2 separate regions of the Homo sapiens genome follow, and region 2 is linked to region 1. A link means that fine-mapping ties the variant in region 1 to the expression of a gene that starts in the linked region. Tissue or cell type: whole blood. Region 1 holds a variant in brackets; the other region holds the start of a gene. All regions are shown on one strand. Distances are between the middles of the regions.

The links. PIP is the estimated chance that this variant, and not a neighbour inherited with it, causes the effect.
Region 2: it holds the start of EPSTI1, and the variant in region 1 is fine-mapped to the expression of EPSTI1 in whole blood (TOPMed, PIP above 0.99).

The regions. Positions count from the first base shown.
Region 1 is chr13:42,921,834-42,929,942 of GRCh38, reverse strand. EPSTI1 (epithelial stromal interaction 1) reads left to right here. Exons shown (of 11, transcript NM_033255.5): 7 at 3,514-3,607. Among named protein-coding and RNA genes, the nearest start is that of LINC00428, 53 kb to the right of the region's middle. The variant C/G (reference allele first, on the strand shown) is at 3,514.
Region 2 is chr13:42,987,946-42,996,054 of GRCh38, reverse strand. It overlaps EPSTI1 (epithelial stromal interaction 1), which reads left to right and starts at 3,814. Exons shown (of 11, transcript NM_033255.5): 1 at 3,814-4,077. The coding sequence starts at 3,890. RefSeq lists enhancers at 3,181-3,420, 3,681-3,800.

The sequences.
Region 1 (8,109 bases):
TAGCCAGCCCCACACTGGTCTTCCCACTGGCATTCTGGAAACTATTGTTCTATGAAATCTGGAATGGTATCTGCCAAGTCTTTCCCTAGTAAACACCACCATAGTCTGTGTGGGGTTTTTTATCCCCTTTTTATTTAAGAAACATTTCAAACACACAGAAAATATGCATCAACCACTAAGCTCATATTGTTAAGATATTACTTATATTTGGTTAATTAAAAAAGATAAATATTACAGAGACAGCTAGCTGTCCCTCCACCCTCATCCCTTCCTTCTCTGTCTTTCTCTAGCAGTAACCACTGTCCTGGTATGTAATATTTGTCAATGTGCGTTAACCAAAAACTACCAGGAATATACCTGTAGTTGAACAAGTTGGGTTTATTACTCATTGCAGCAAAGGAAAATGCATACCATAGGGAATGGTGAGTTATCTCAGGGAGAAAGTGTTAGAAAGACCCTACTACAGGATTTGTGCTTTGGTTGGGTAATTTTGGGGAGGGTCTACGGAGGCAGGGAGTTGCTCTGGATTGAGTGCCATCAGAATGTGGGGACAGTTTTATGATTGGGTATCTCAATAAATCTTACCTATAGGAAGGACCTAGAGTGACTACGAAGCTGTAATTAGTGAAGAAGTAGTGGTCATTCACTTAGAGGAGATGATGTTTGGTACTTTGTAGATTGCATGATGACCTTGTGTGAAGTAGATATTCTGTGTGACTATTTACATCCAACAGTGGAACAAGGCTTAACTTCAGTGTCAGATCAAATCAGTTTATAATAACACTGAGATTTAGACGTGAGCATCAGATCAGTTCCTGGATGCCAGGAGCTGCTCTTCTCACTTGGCAAGTGTTTCTAATTTTACTACATATAAGTGAATTCACAAAAAGCATAGACTGCTTTTTAAAATACCATTGTGTCATAATTTGAAAGGCAGCCTCCTCCACTCAGGTATTTAGGAACCAAAACTGATAGAGACTCCACCACCTTCAATGCACAACTTCCAGCATTTCCTTGAGGGCTGTCTCTGTTCCAGCCAGGAGAACAATGTATGGAGGCACATGCATGGGAATTTTCTAATAAGTTAGTACTGGATGTGGCATTCAACACTTCTCACATTCCATTGGTCAAGACTCAATCATATAGCCAACCTTAGCTGCAAGGGAGGCTAGGAAATGTAGCCAAGTTGTGTGGCCAGAAGAGGAGAATGTAAATTTTCATGACCATTTAGCAGTCTGCTACAACTGTATTCTGTTGAGGCGAGATTTTCCTGAAGGGACCTTTCAGGATATGCCATAGAAATCAACCTAAGAATGAGCAGGAAGGACCCTTAAAGATCCTAAGTTGGACATAAGTAAATTTTATTTTGTTCTATGGAGAATAGAGGAAGAAATCTTTCATGCTTGGATCAGAGTGACAAAGTGGAAGAGGACCACCCCTCTCCAACAGGCAGTAGAGTCACGGTAGTGATAATACCAAGAACCCCCAAGGGCAAGGTGAAAACAGTGCTAGAGTCCAGGGTTCTTAGTCCAGTTGGACTTCCCACGAGGATGTTTTCCTTCGTTTGCCCCTCAAACAGGTTCTACATCTTATTTTTGTTAAATATAACCAGAGTTACCTACAGGGATCCCACTTCAGTTCAGCCAATATATGGAAATTTTATATACCAGGGACTAATGCTAATAGTAGAAAAATATGAGTTAGTGTCGTAACATGGGACTTCCTTTGTATAGTTGATCACTTGGCAGTAATCCGCATACTCTGCAGGCCCCTACCTGTATTCCTCTGGCAGTCCTGTGACCCTGTCACTCTGCTTTATATCCTGCGGCATGAGTGGGGCAGTGATAATTGGCACAAGGACCACAGATAGAGGCTGGCTCTGCAGGCAGCTTTGTGCTTGGCGTTGGCAGGTAAGAAGCGGCAGTCAGTAAACTGAAGGGCTGCCTGTCAACTTGGTCTGAAGTTTCTTCCTTGCTTGTCACAGTGTTTCTTTTTCACTGCTTTCTCCTATGGCCTGCACTTGGCTTAGGATATTCAGAGATCTCATCCAAACTTCTGGCATCACTCTTCTTTTTATACTTTTGACTGATGACTTCATAAAGCCCCAGACAATGGGGCAGCTTCCACACTCTGTGACTTCATTAGTCTCCTTGTCTATTCTGGGCAAGATAAGTAATCTAAGACAAATGGAAAGGCTGCTCGTCTCAACTGCTGAATGTTTCTCAGGGTTCTGTATGTTGCTTCACTTTTATTTCTTCCTTCCCCAGATCAAGCTTCTGACCTTTTTCAAATGCCATGTTCTACCTAAGTAATATTTGAAGTGATGCTGGCACCTGTTTAGTTTCTAATTCCTTGTTTTGCTCCTACACTGGATGCCATTTGTTCTACCAGATACTTTGTGTTTCCTTTGATGCCCATGTCCTAAGTACTTGATGAATCAGATCTTAGCATTGGGCTTAAAATATTAGGGGGAAGCAGAGGGCTAGCAGGAGGAGGGAGGGAGATGGGAACAGGCTGCGCAAGTCTGGTGCAAAGTAAGTCAGTGCTCAATGAGGTATGTGGCTGTGAATGTGCAATGAAGAGATAAAAATCACACAAATTACATGAGAAAAGGACAAAGGCGTAGAAATTAATCAAGGGTAGGCAGAATGGGCCAGGCACTGAGGTAAGGACTAGGAAACAATTCCAGTGTTCTATGCTTGGCATAAGTGAGAGGGGAAATTGGGGTGGTGGTTTGGATTTTTAAGGTAAAAACAGAGAACTTCTTATTTAAACTGAGGACATTTCTAGGTCAATTTTTCAGAGCTAAAAAGAGATATTAGAAATGCAGTCTAGAATCAGCAGCACTTTTTAACCTCTATAGATAAACCCTATGGAGGGTTTATCCTCTCTCTGAAACAAAATGCAAAGGACTGTGTGTGTGTGTGTGTGTGTGTGTGTGTGTGTGTGTGTCTGTTAACAGAGGGTTCACTTTTGCTTTCAGAGTCCAAAAGGGCTCCATGATCCATAAATGGAAAAGAGCTACTGGATTAGAGGGTCTCTGTGTCCTAACAGTGGTCAAAGCCATGAGGCAGATGAGAGGGTAAAGGGCTTAATGTAAAACTGGTGTGAAGCAGGATGTTGTAGGGCGTGAATGTTCCACAGCTCCACCCTGAAGTCTGAGTGTTAAGCATTAAATGTTCAGATAGGAAATTAGGGCTGCATGCTGTGGAATGTGCTCTGGGAGAGGACTTGTATTTATGTCAGTAATATAAAGTGGAAAAAATGAGGTCATAAGCTCACATTTCATAAAGCTAGTTTTATAATTTTGTAATATTGTTCTTGAAGAATGCAATCTTGCAATAGCATTTTGTTTTGATTTCTGCTACACCTTGTTCTCAACGTAACTTTCTGTTCTGCTGAAGATAATTTTAATCATCACCCAAATAAGTCTAGGTTAGTATCCAAAGGAAAAATAAAGAATTATGTTCATATTTTTGTGAAGGCACTAACACCTGTTTGTGTTTCTGGTAG[C/G]AAAACCGCTGAGTTCTTGAGCAAACTGAACACAGAATCGCCAGACAGAAGTGCCTGTCAAAGTGCTGTTTGTGGCCCACAATCCTCAACATGGGTAAGTGAATTACTTTGCAGGGTGCTGCCTGGCACATTTTATAGAGGTATTTAGTGACTGAAGATGAGGGATATAGAGTGACTTGTACATCATAGAATGCTGGAACTAAAGACAGATGACCTGATCCGAAACTTTGACCTCAACTGTTGCCTGAGCTATAAAATAATGCTTGTATTATTTTATGGGCACCTGGACTAAAACAGCCTCAGAGAAGTTTTTCCTCTCACCCAACCATTCATTCACCCACCCATCCACCCATCCATTCTTCCATCCTTCCATCCTTCCTACCTTCCTTCCTTCCTTCCTTCCATCCATGCATCCATCCATCCTTCCTTCCATTCTTTAAATTCATAGGTCTATATAAGGCCTACTAAGTGCCTACAGTTTCTGCCCAATGAACCTTAGTAAAGGAGAACACTAATGGTTTTAAAGCAAACTGCTGAGCACAGAGCATATCACAATAAGAAAGCACTACTGCCTTATCAGGAAGAAGCATCTAAGTCAGACCATGTGCGTTAGATGCTTCTTGGGAAATGACACCAGAGCAGAAGCTTAAACTATGAATCAGTAAAGTGATGAGTCTTTCCAGGTATCAGAATTAATAAAGACACATAGAGCAAGAATTAAGGTATAAATGCAAGAAATAAGCATGGCTTGTGTTGCGGAAGAAGAGTTATGTAGCTGCAGTGCAGAAAAGTGAGCTAGAAGGATATAGAAATGAGCAGGAACGGTGAGGACCCTTTCCCAATGGTGTTACCTCTGGAAATTCAGGTGGGACAGTTCATTGTGTGAGTTGTCTTGATTACTGCAGGATGCTTAGTATCCCTAGGCCCTGGGCATGAAGGGCCAGTAGCGCCACCCAGACACTGAGACATCTAGAAATGCCCCCACACAGTGCTTACCAATGAGACATGTAGAAATGCCCCGCATACTGCGTGCTCATGGTGCTCCTGGTAGAAAACCACCACAGAAATTTGCATGCCACCTTGGAAAACCTAAACCCCATTCTGTGAGCACTGAGGGTATTGGAAATGTTTAAACAGGGAAAACTCAAGGTTAGATTTGTGTTTTCATTCTGGATCACATTGGCAACATTGTGAAGGAGGGCTCTAAAGGAATAGAGAAGCAGAGAGGCCCCCCAAGGCTTCTGTATCAGTCTGGGTAAAGAATGATGAAGACTTCAGCTAGGACAGCGGGGGAGAGGATGGAGAAGAGAGTGCAGGTCAGAAAACTGCTTAGAAGGTGAAAGCGGCAGGGCTTGTTTATTGACTTGCTAACTGGGGACAAGAAAGTAAGTGTAATTAAGGATGACTCTGGATAAGGGTTGTAGCTGAAAGAAAAGATGAATTTAAGTTTCTTAAAGTCTCAGGTTTCTCAGAGTTTGGGTAGCTAAATGAGTTGTTAAAGAACCCTCATCTTCATCTCCCCTTACCCCTTTCTCAATAGAGACCATGTTTTTAAATGTCAGGAAGATATTATGACACTCCTTAGGAAGAGGTCATTATACTCCTACTTAGAAATCTTTAGTTGTTTCCTAATTTTTTTCTTTCTGCTTCTAATGTGATGTTCTAAAGTCTAAATTCATCAGTGTGGGCCCTACAACTTATATTAAAGGAAATTCATCATCTCTCTTCCCTCACTGCTGGGCTCTGGGGGAAAGAGTTGAGAAGCTGTAGGCAGTGGAGTTAAATCATGTGTAGATGACAGCCCTAAACACCTGTCTGGATATCCTTGTGGCTGTCAGGGAGGGAGAGGGAGAACAGGAGTTGGATAGCTTTACCAGCTGGAGTTTCGCCTACCAGGCTGGTCTTCCTTTCCGTTCGAGGGCTCCCTGTATCCTGCAATGTGGAACACCTGGCAGAACTGCGTGTGCTGCTCTATTGATTTTGGCTCATTTCTTCAATTTAACAAGATCGTCCTGAATTTTAATATTGTCATCCAAAGCATTAGCAATGTTTCCCAGAGCTGCATTTTCTGTGGATTGATTAGTGCATTTGTCATAGGATCCTCAGAGCTATTAATAGAAAATATGGAGGGAGATTGGACCCAGGACGGTTCCTTATAAACTCCACGCAATAGCTGCTCCGATTTTGACCCCAAACTATTAATACGGTTTCAGTGTTCAATATATTTAATTGACTTTTTACCCATATTATACTCTTCTCATTCTGTCTCATCCATATGCATAGAATTCTTCTGAGAATGCTTTGCAGAATCATTTCTAATGGTGTAGGAAAATCAAATATGTACATTGCACTTCTGTGAAGAACATTTCTTTGTAAAAAGAGGACACCTGCAGTTTACTTTAGCTATGGTCAACTTATAGAATGTGAACACTATGTGATTGCCATCTATATGGGATGTGATGAGCTGGAAGAATTTATATATAATTTTTAATACTTTAATTTTACTACCTAATGTAACTTTCCTGAAAAGATTTTTCCTCTTGTACTTTTCTCCTTTAAAAGTGGATCTGCCATTGGCAGATGGGGATTTAATAAATACTAGAAAATTATGTCAATGTAAAAGATTACAAGAAAAATCCTTTAGTGGTTACAAGAAAATTCCTTTTGGCTTAGGACTTCAGACAAGAGATATTTACAGGGTTCACTTTTACATGTGGATTAATATAGTTCTCTGTATTGTGTGTGTAGGCAGAAGTACCAGCATCATCAGACCTTCCTCAGCGACCATCGCTGCATATTTCTAGTCAAATATGAAATGGTTTCTAGTCTCTGGTTTGCTGCCCCCATTTTTTATTTATTTATTTATTTTTAGACAGGGTCTCACTCTGTCACCCAGGCTGGAGTGCAGCAGCATGATCTTGGCTCACTGCAACCTCCACCTCCCAGGTTCAAGCCATCCTGCCACCTCAGCCTCCTAAGTGGCTGGGACCACAGGCACGCACCCCCACGCCCAGCTAACTTTTGTAGTTTTTGTAGAGACAGGGTTTTGCCACATTGCGCAGGGTGATCTCAAACTCCTGGGCTGAAATGATCCACCCACCTTGGCCTCCCAAAGTGCTGGGATTACAGGTGTGAGCCACCGCACCCGGCCTTATGCCCCTACTTCCTCAACGAAGAATAACGATGTGAAAAAATCTTATCCTGGTGTTTCACTTCCCCAAATCATTCAGTGGTCCCCCATATCTTCAAGGATAAAATCAAAATGTCTTAGCTTAGGCACAAAGTCCTTTCCTCTCTCTGTCCCTCCGTCTCTCCTTTAATTCTAGATTCTGTCTCTTTCTTTAGAATGGCCCCTTTCTAGTCCTCTGGGGTCTGGAGGACTGGCCTCGAGTCTAAATCTTTGCTTCTGCAAAGGGGTGAGGGGAAGCAAAGCTTTTGCAAGCAAGGTAAGGGGAAGCAAAGCTTTTGAAATCAGGAGCAAAGATTTAGATGCAGATCAATCTCAGGCCCCACTGCAGACCTCCTGAATCAGAGCTTGTATTTAATACAGTCCATGGAAGATGTGTGTGCACGTTAATGTCTGAGGGGCCAAGCTCTATAGCTCATGCCTCTCCAGCTCTCCTCTCTCACACTACTGTGAGCACTCAGTGCAGGTTGATTATTGTAATTTTTATCTACGTGTCACATGCTCATTCATTAAGAAGTCAAATAAAGTACTTAACATGTGTCCCTTTGCGCCGCTTGAATCCCACTTCCACCGCAACATTTGAACACTTCCCTTTGCTGCTGTAACAAATTACCACGAATGTAGTGACCTAATAGAACAAAAATTTATTCTCTTAACACTTCTGGAGGTCAGCAATAAAAATGGGTTTTAAAATGCTAAAATGAGGGTATCAACAGGAATGGTTCCTTTTGAAGCTTCCGGGGGGCATCTGTCCCCTGTCCCCGCAAACCCTTGGCACACGGCTGCATGGCTCCAGTTTAGCTTCCATCTCACCCAACCTTCTGCACCCTCCCTGACCTTTCTGCCTTCCTCTTATAATGACCCTTTTGATTACAATGGGCCCACCTGGACTATCCAGGCTAATCTCTCCACTTCCAGATCCTTAATTTCTGCAAAGTCCCTTTTGTCACATAAAGAAACATTCACAGATTCCAGGGATTGGGACGTCTTTGGGGGGCCATTATGCAACCCACCACCTGTTTCTTTTCTTAGTTAGCTCCGAATATCTGTTAATATGTGTTGGTATCTCTTGACTAATCAATTTTAGACCTTATTAACTCATTTCTTCCTCTCATTCTTATAATTATTCAGTAATTTGAGCTTTCCCTATTATGACTATATACACGTTTTCTCACTGCCAAGCCAGTCGGTATACTCTGGTTATATCTTCTGTACAACTCTTTAAACATTTTATTTTAGCGTTTTCTTAGTTTCCTTTGAACATTTGACTGTCTTCTGACAGCTTTTGTGACTGTTCTACAAAATGCCTCTTGACGCAAATTTCTAAACAATTTTCCAACTTATGCCTGTCAGATAACTTGTGGATTTTTTTTTTTCTCTCCCTCCTGGATCCCTCTTTCCTCCTGCTT
Region 2 (8,109 bases), 66 kb before region 1:
TTACCAAAAGGAACGAATACATGATTATTTCCCAGAGGCAGTTTCATTTGAAAAGAAAAACATTTCCTAAATGAATCTCTAATTGGCCAAATTTCAGGTAAGGTAACAATCCCACTAGATTTCACTTCTTTCTCATGTCTCTTAAAACATATTCCTAGGTAATTGTCTAGTATGGTGGTTTTTCAAACTTTTAAAAGCCATTGAATTCTTGCCTCAAACAAAATTAGGCAGTGGCCTAGTGAGTAGAAGAGATAAGGGGCTAAAGTACTTGGCTAAATAGGGATAGGGGCCCAGGACCCTCCCCACTCACCTCTGCTTCTCTCCACCAGCCACTACTATAGAAAAACGCACCCAAGAACAACTCCAGTAAAAGGCCAGCCCTTATTTTCGCCCAAATGCACACACCTACGGTGAAAGAATGGATGATACACAAGTAGCCCATTCTCGGGCATCCAAAAGGAGCCTGTAGATGTCTGTTGCCATAATAAATCACATTCACTTTTTTTTGTTGTTGTTGTTGAGACGGAGTCTCGCTCTGTCACCCAGGCCGGAGTGCAGTGGCATGATTTCGGCTCACTGCAAGCTCCGCCTCCCGGGTTCACGCCATTCTCCTGCCTCAGCCTTCGGAATAGCTGGAACTACAGGCGCCCACCACCACGCCCGGCTAATTTTTTGTATTTTTAGTAGAGACAGGGTTTCACCGTATTAGCCAGGATGGTCTCGATCTCCTGACCTCGTGATCCGCCTGCCTCGGCCTCCCAAAGTGCTGGGATTACAGGTGTGAGCCACCGCATCCAGCCTCACATTCACATTTTTTAAAACACTTTGAGAATGTGGCAAAACAAGAAGTGAATGGAGTGAGAAATCTCAGGTAAAACAAGAAGTGAATGGAGTGAGAAATCTCAGGTTTGAAACTTTGGTGTGACATGTGGTTGTGTTGTGAAACAAATATGGTTAACTAAGTATATTCTTGAGGCCAACATCCCTATTACTAGCTCCTTTAGGAGAATCAGTTTTCCCCCAGTGTGGGTTTTCCCTTCCTCAAACTTTAAATTTCATCCAACCACCAAAATAATTTTCTCCTTTGAAACAAGAGTTCCAGGGGTATTTTCCTAGTAAAGAACAATGTGGAAGATGGCCTCCAGAAAGGCCCTGCTGTTCCTCTTTTTTGTTGATCTCTAGGTCTGCGTTTCTCACCCCGCTGGTACCTTACACCCAACAGCACCTAAACAGACTTTTAGAACTTCCCTCAAAGCTTGTCCCTCCTCTAGGTTAATGGTTCTACCTCGTATCCAGTCACAAAGCTAAAAGTCACCATAAAGACAGCAACCATTAAATTACTGGGGCTATAAGGTAGGCATACTGTGAAGATCAGGATTTTTCAACTTCAACACTGTTGACACGTGGGGCAGGACAACTCTTTGTCATGTGGGCCTATTCTGTGCATTGTAGGATGTTTAGGAGCATCCCCGGCCTTTACACACTAGATGCTAGCAGCACCTACCCACTTTGAGGCTTCACAATCAAAAATATGTCCAGGCATTGCCAGATGTCTGCTAGAGGAAAAATCAACTCCATTTGAGAACCACTGATGTGGATGATCTCTATTCCTCACAATACCCACATGAGGCAGAGGAGGAAACTGGATCTCTGAGGAATTAAGAGATTTGGCCTTGGTTGTGTGGCCAGTATGTGGCAAAGCTGGTCTCAAAGCACTATAAAAGCCATCTCCCCTTCTCTCTGCTGCCTTCCAGTACTCAATTCTCTCTTTCATCTAGTTTTTATCTATGCTAATCTCTCATGTGAAATGTCTTTTATGTTTTATTTATTTGTTTTGTAGAGATGAGGTCTTACCATGCTGCCCAGGCTGGCCTTAAACTCCTGGCCTCAGGTGATCCTCCTGCCTCAGCCTCCAAAAGTGCTGGGATTACAGGCATGAGCAACTGAGCCTGGCCCATGTGAAATGTCTTGATTTTGCTCCCCACTTTCTGGGTTGCCTTAGCTCAGATCTGTATTTCTTACCTAGACGTAACTAGGCTCTGAATTTATCTTCCCGATTTCAGTCTCTTCATCTTTCAATCTCCGTTTTCACATTGTTAGAAGCTAACTTTGTAAAACAGATATTATTGAGTAACTGCCCTATTGAAAAACTTCCTGTGCCTTCCACATTGCCTACAACAGTGGTTCCCAAAGGGTGATCCTGAGACTGGCATCATTGGTATCACCTGGAAATTTGTTAGAAATGCAAATCCTTGGGCCCCATCCCAGACCTGAATCAGAAACTATATATATATATTTTTGAGATGGAGTCTCTCTCTGTCGCCCAGGTGGAGGTGGGGTTTCGCCACGTTGGCTAGGCTGGTCTTCAACTCCTGATCTCCAGGTAATCCTCCTGCCTCGGCCTCCAAAAGTACTGGAATTACAGGAGTGAGCCACCGTGCCTGGCCATAAATCTGTTTTAACGCACCCTCCTCCAAGTGGTTCTGATGCTTACTGAAATTTGTGAAACTCTGGCCTACTCTACAAAACCCTAATGTCTTAGGATGGCATAGAAATCCTGACTGACTTTCCTACCATGTTCCTTGTCATTATTTTCTCCTCTCCTGTCCCACCCTGGCCCACCCTTCAATTTCATTCTTTCATTAGCTATCAAACCTGTATGTGTCTTTTTGTTCTAAGCACCAATAATATAAGGAAGACAGTCCAGCTCCTAACTGTCTTGCTGACCTAGGACTGGGGTGCTCCAGCCACATGACAACCCCTGGAATTAAGTACACACCATGTCATTTTAAGTGACAAGCCTCTGCCATAGCATCTCCTTCTTCTTGGTGAATTCCTATGTCTTTGGTGGCTCATTCTCAAATGTCCCTGTTCCTGAATTACTCAGAGGGCTAATCCCCAGTTTCTCTGTGCCTCCACAGCTGCCTGTCATTTCATTTATCCCAAAGTGGCATTCCCATTTGTTTACCTGTCTACTAGGATACTCCTAGAATGCAGGTAGCATGAGGGAAGAGCCTTCACTCATCTTTGTGTAGACGGCATTGTGACCCTGGTGACCAACCCTGGCACACATCAGAATCATCTGGGAGCTTTTCAAAAATATGAATGCCAGAGCTCACCCCTGAACCTACAGGAACTGAGCCTTACACATCCATATTTTAAAATGTCCCCACATCACCGTTGCACACTGTTCTGCACAGAGCAGGTATTTTTAATAGTTCTCGAATGTCTAGTCAATTACTTAGCAAGGCTGCCTGGAGAATCATGTCTACCTTAGCTTACTTCTCCGGCTTTGTAGGTTTTTGTTTTCTTTTGATTTCAGTTTCCATTTCCTCTAACTTGAAAGTATGTGCATTGGTAACAGCCACACAGCAGTCATTACTGATAAAAGGCGACATTTTGTTGAGATGATTTTAGTTATTGACCTAATCTCTGGTATTTTAAGGTTAATATATTTTTTACAGTCTCAAATATCCAGCGGTAACCTCAAATTAGAGTTGCCTGTTAAACAGTTTCTCAAGTATCTTTCAGGATTGTAGTCACTCTGCGGGCTAATCGCTCACCAGGTGTCCGTGGCTGATCCCAGTTATTCTGATTAACCTCTAAGGTGATTGTGAGACTTTAAACCGTCTCACCTGTAGCCGACCAAGCCAGCTCAAGTCAACATCCTGGGCTGTTAACCCGCGATAAGGTCGGACGGGGCCTCAGTGGAGAATACGTGGGGAAGTTCTCTGGGGCGGGCGCAGTCTGCTGCTGATTCTGAGAAACCGAAACTCAGCTGTTAAAACCGCTGCCTCTGCACTTTGGAATCCCATCTTGAGACTCGCTAAGCGTCCCAGCCGCATCCCTCCCGCAGCGACGGCGGCCCGGGACCCGCGGGCTGTGAACCATGAACACCCGCAATAGAGTGGTGAACTCCGGGCTCGGCGCCTCCCCTGCCTCCCGCCCGACCCGGGATCCCCAGGACCCTTCTGGGCGGCAAGGGGAGCTGAGCCCCGTGGAAGACCAGAGAGAGGGTTTGGAGGCAGCCCCTAAGGGCCCTTCGCGGGAGAGCGTCGTGCACGCGGGCCAGAGGCGGTGAGTATTTTAACAACCTGGCTTCGGGGCGGGAGCCCGGGCCCCAAACATACTCACTCACAAGCACCTTGGTCCTTGGAGTTTAAAACCACAGGGGCCCAACAACAGGGATTTTGACTGAATGAAAGCTCATTTGCTTAAATGAAAGTATCCATGCCGCACCTTATAAATTGAGTCGGCTAGTTTGCAGTCCTTTGGTAAATAACCAGCCCGGTTCCTTCCAGGAATACTACTTTCCTGATTTTTGTGACTGGCTACAGGATTGAAAGATATGGGTGTGTCGGAACTGCCTAGGCATCCAGTAAGATGTCATTTTCCAGGTATCTCCAGAACTCATACTCCAACCAGTATGGAAATAACTTTTCCCTTACTGTTTTTAAAAATTTGGTGCTGGGCCAGGCGCGTTGGCTCAAGCCTGTTATCCCAGCACTTTGGGAGGCCAAGGCAGGCAGATCACCTGAGGTCAGGAGTTCGAAACCAGCCTGGCCAACATGGTGAAACCCAGTCTTTACTAAAAATAAAAAATAAGCTGGGTGTGATGGCACGTGCCTGTAGTCCCAGCTACCTGGGAGGCTGAGGTAGGAGAATCGCTTGAACCCGGGAGGCGGAGGTTGCAGTGAGCGGAAATTGCGCCATTGCACTCCAGCCTGGGCAACAGAGCGAGACTGTCTCAAAACAAAACAAAACAGAAAAACAAAACTTGGTGTCCTAAACGGAATTACTGTATCAGACACTAACAGGTAAGGGTCAACAAGAAATGTGATATGGGGTAGAAGGTTCAAATTCTGCCTCTAGGTAGGAGCAAGCCTACGTCCCAGCAAGACTCGCAGATAAACTAGCCTCTTACAACCAGAGGAGTGGAGCTGAGAGAGTGAGGAGGTGAGTGACCATAGTACCTCTCATCCCTGATGTTGATATGTGCTCTATGCAGGAACAGATAGGTAGCTTTTATTCCTGGTCTTTGGTTCAGGGACTGCAGTGAGTATCCGGGAAACATTTATTAAGCAAGTGTCATGAGCCTCTCTTTCTAGCCAATGGAATGAACTTTAACTCAACAGTATGGTTTATCACAACATCACTGCCTTTGAAGTGCTGCCTCTGTGAATTGGAACTGTCCAGATGGTTTTATTTTTAGTCTCTCCTTTTTCATCGACTTCTAGTCTCTGAAAGACAAACCCTGGTTGCTAAGAAACAGTATATAACCTTATGGCCGATAAACAGTAGATTTTCTTTCATCCCTTAGCTTTTGGAAAGTACCAGGCCTTTAATATTATTATTTAGCTTAGGTTTACCCTTAGATGGGGTGGATAATCTGGAAATCAATTAGAGATTGTTGCATTTCTTTCCTCCTCAGAATAATTAGTGTCTCGCCACAGTAGAAGCAGCCAATTACTTTCAAGTAACCCACGTATCTACAAGCTATAGTACTTAACAGTAACAAAGGTCACAGACATATGGTCTCGTGTCCATGAATAGTTAACGATGAACATGATTTGCATGACTTTTTTCTGTTAAAAAGCATTTATTTAGATACAACCATTTATTTCTAAGCTCATATCATCGCATAAGTATTAACTGTTGCATCTGTTTTCTTATTTGGTTGTAATTACCCTGGAATCTTGCCAGATCAAATTGCTCAGAAAGAGGCAGCTTTCTGATGGGTTATCCAGGCCTTAATACCCTGAAGAGCTCACTGTACACTATTTTGCGATTCCTGAAAAGATTTTCAAATGAACCATTAAAAAAATACCAGGAAGTGTTTAGTTATCTCTCACAGAGTCTTCCTTTTTTTTTTTTTTTTTCCTCATGTGAACCAGTTGCAGTAAGTACAGAATTATATATTCCCTTTTAGGGGTTTGATGTCTGAGATCCTGTTGGGATGACTTTGAATTTTTGTTGCATCTCCATTAGTTACTTAGATTCACTTTCTCACTTGTTTCCTTTAATGAAGTTGGAAAACCAAGGAAAATGAATGGCAAATATCTCAGTAGAATTAGCTGCCTACCCGCTGCCCCAAAATAAAGAAGGCTTTATTTATTTTGGGGATAAAAATTAGAAACACTTTCTGATTTAAAAAAATGAAGAGGCCGGGCATGGTGTCTCACGCCTGTAATCCCAGCACTTTGGGAGGCCGAGGAGGGCGGATCACGAGGTCAGGAGATGGAGACCATCCTGGCTAACACAGTGAAACCCCGTCTCTACTAAAAATACAAAAAATTAGCTGGGCATGGTGGCAGGCGCCTGTAGTCCCAGCTACTTGGGAGGCTGAGGCAGGAGAATGGCGTGAACCCGGGAGGCAGAGCTTGCAGTGAGCCGAGATCGCGCCACTACACTCCAGCCTGGGCGACAGAGTGAGACTCTGTCTCAAAAACAAAACAAAACAAAACAAAAAGCAAAAAAAAAAAAAAAAGAAAAAAGAGGATAAAGTGCTTTAATAGTACAGTTTCATTTGTCCACTCATAATGTGAATTTATTTATATGGTAAAAGATTTGTCTTGTTTTGTGGGAATCCTTCCATTAATTTCCTCCTGCAGCCCCAGTGTGGGGATTAGGAATATGGGCTCTGATGCTGGGTAGACCTGGGTTCAAGTTCTGATTATGCCATCACTTGCTCTTTGAACAAAATCCTTAGCTACTTTATGCCTCAGTTTCCTCATTACTTAATATAAGACAATACCAACTTCATAGGGTTTTAATTTTTCCACGTGTATATGTGTAAAACATAACTTTATTCCTGGTAAAGTACTATGCTGTCACCCTTAAGTCGAATGTTTGTGCCTTGTTAAAAAAAAACACTGGTTTAAAACACCTACTTGTGGTCGGGCGCAGGGGCTTGTGCCTGTAACCTCAGCACTTTGGAAAGCCAATGTGGGAGGATTGCTTTAGTCCAGGAGTAACATAGGGAGTCCCTTGTCTCTCCAAAAAAAAAAAAAAAAAAAAAAAAATTTAAATTATCTGGGCACGGTGGCACATACCTCTGTCCCAGCTACTCAAGAGGCTGAGGCAGGAGGATAGCTTGAGCTCAGGAGCTCCAAGACTACAGTGAGCTGTGATTGTACCACTGTACTCCAGCCTGGGCAACAGAGTGAGACCCTGTCTCAAATAAATAAATAAATAAATAAATAAACCACCTATTTGCATAGAAAGAAAGTATACTAGTAAAAATCTGTGGCTATCAATATATTAAATTATTCTGAGTACCTCTGATAGACTCTCAGACAAGATTGAGTTCTTTTTTTTTTTTTTTGAGACAGAGTCTCGCTCTGTCGCTCAGGCTGGAGTGCAACAGCGCAATCTCAGCTCACCACAACCTCTGCCTCCCGTGTTCAAGCGACTCCTCTGCCTCAGCCTCCTGAGCAGCTGGTACCACAGGCACATGCCACCATGCCTGGCTAATTTTCGTATTTTTAGTAGAGACGGGGTTTCGCCACATTGGCCAGGCCGGTCTCAAACTCCTGACCTTGTGATCTGCCTGCCTCGGCCTCCCAAAGTGCTGGGATTACAGGCGTGAGCCACCGCGCCTGGCCAAGATTGAGTTCTTGATGGAATTTGGATTTAAGTTATTATAAGTATTTACTAATTCATACTGGCTTTCCCAATTATTTTTACTTGGTGATTTTTGTCTTGTCCTTAAATATCAAAGCTGTCTACACAAATTAAAAGAGAAAAAAGCTTACACAAACTTCTAATCCAAAGTAAACCTTTATCCTTCCTTTTAATATTCTGCTTGTTTGTAAATATTTTACATTATTTATATCACCTCTAGATAAATATAAGACAAAGACATGCATTTACCTAGTTTTATCCAATTCTGGGAAATGGGGTCTTGCCTGTGCTGGTAATATAGGGTTGAATTCACATTCATGTACTTGTCTAACCATACCTGGTCCTTTAGCTTGATGCTGTTTGAAGAAAATAAAAATATATTTTGAAAATGAACCTATAATATGGAATTTTATTTTACAGTTAACTTGAGCTGAATTTGTATGTAAATTATGTTAATCTTAACATTTTTGTGGCCTACTTCGTATT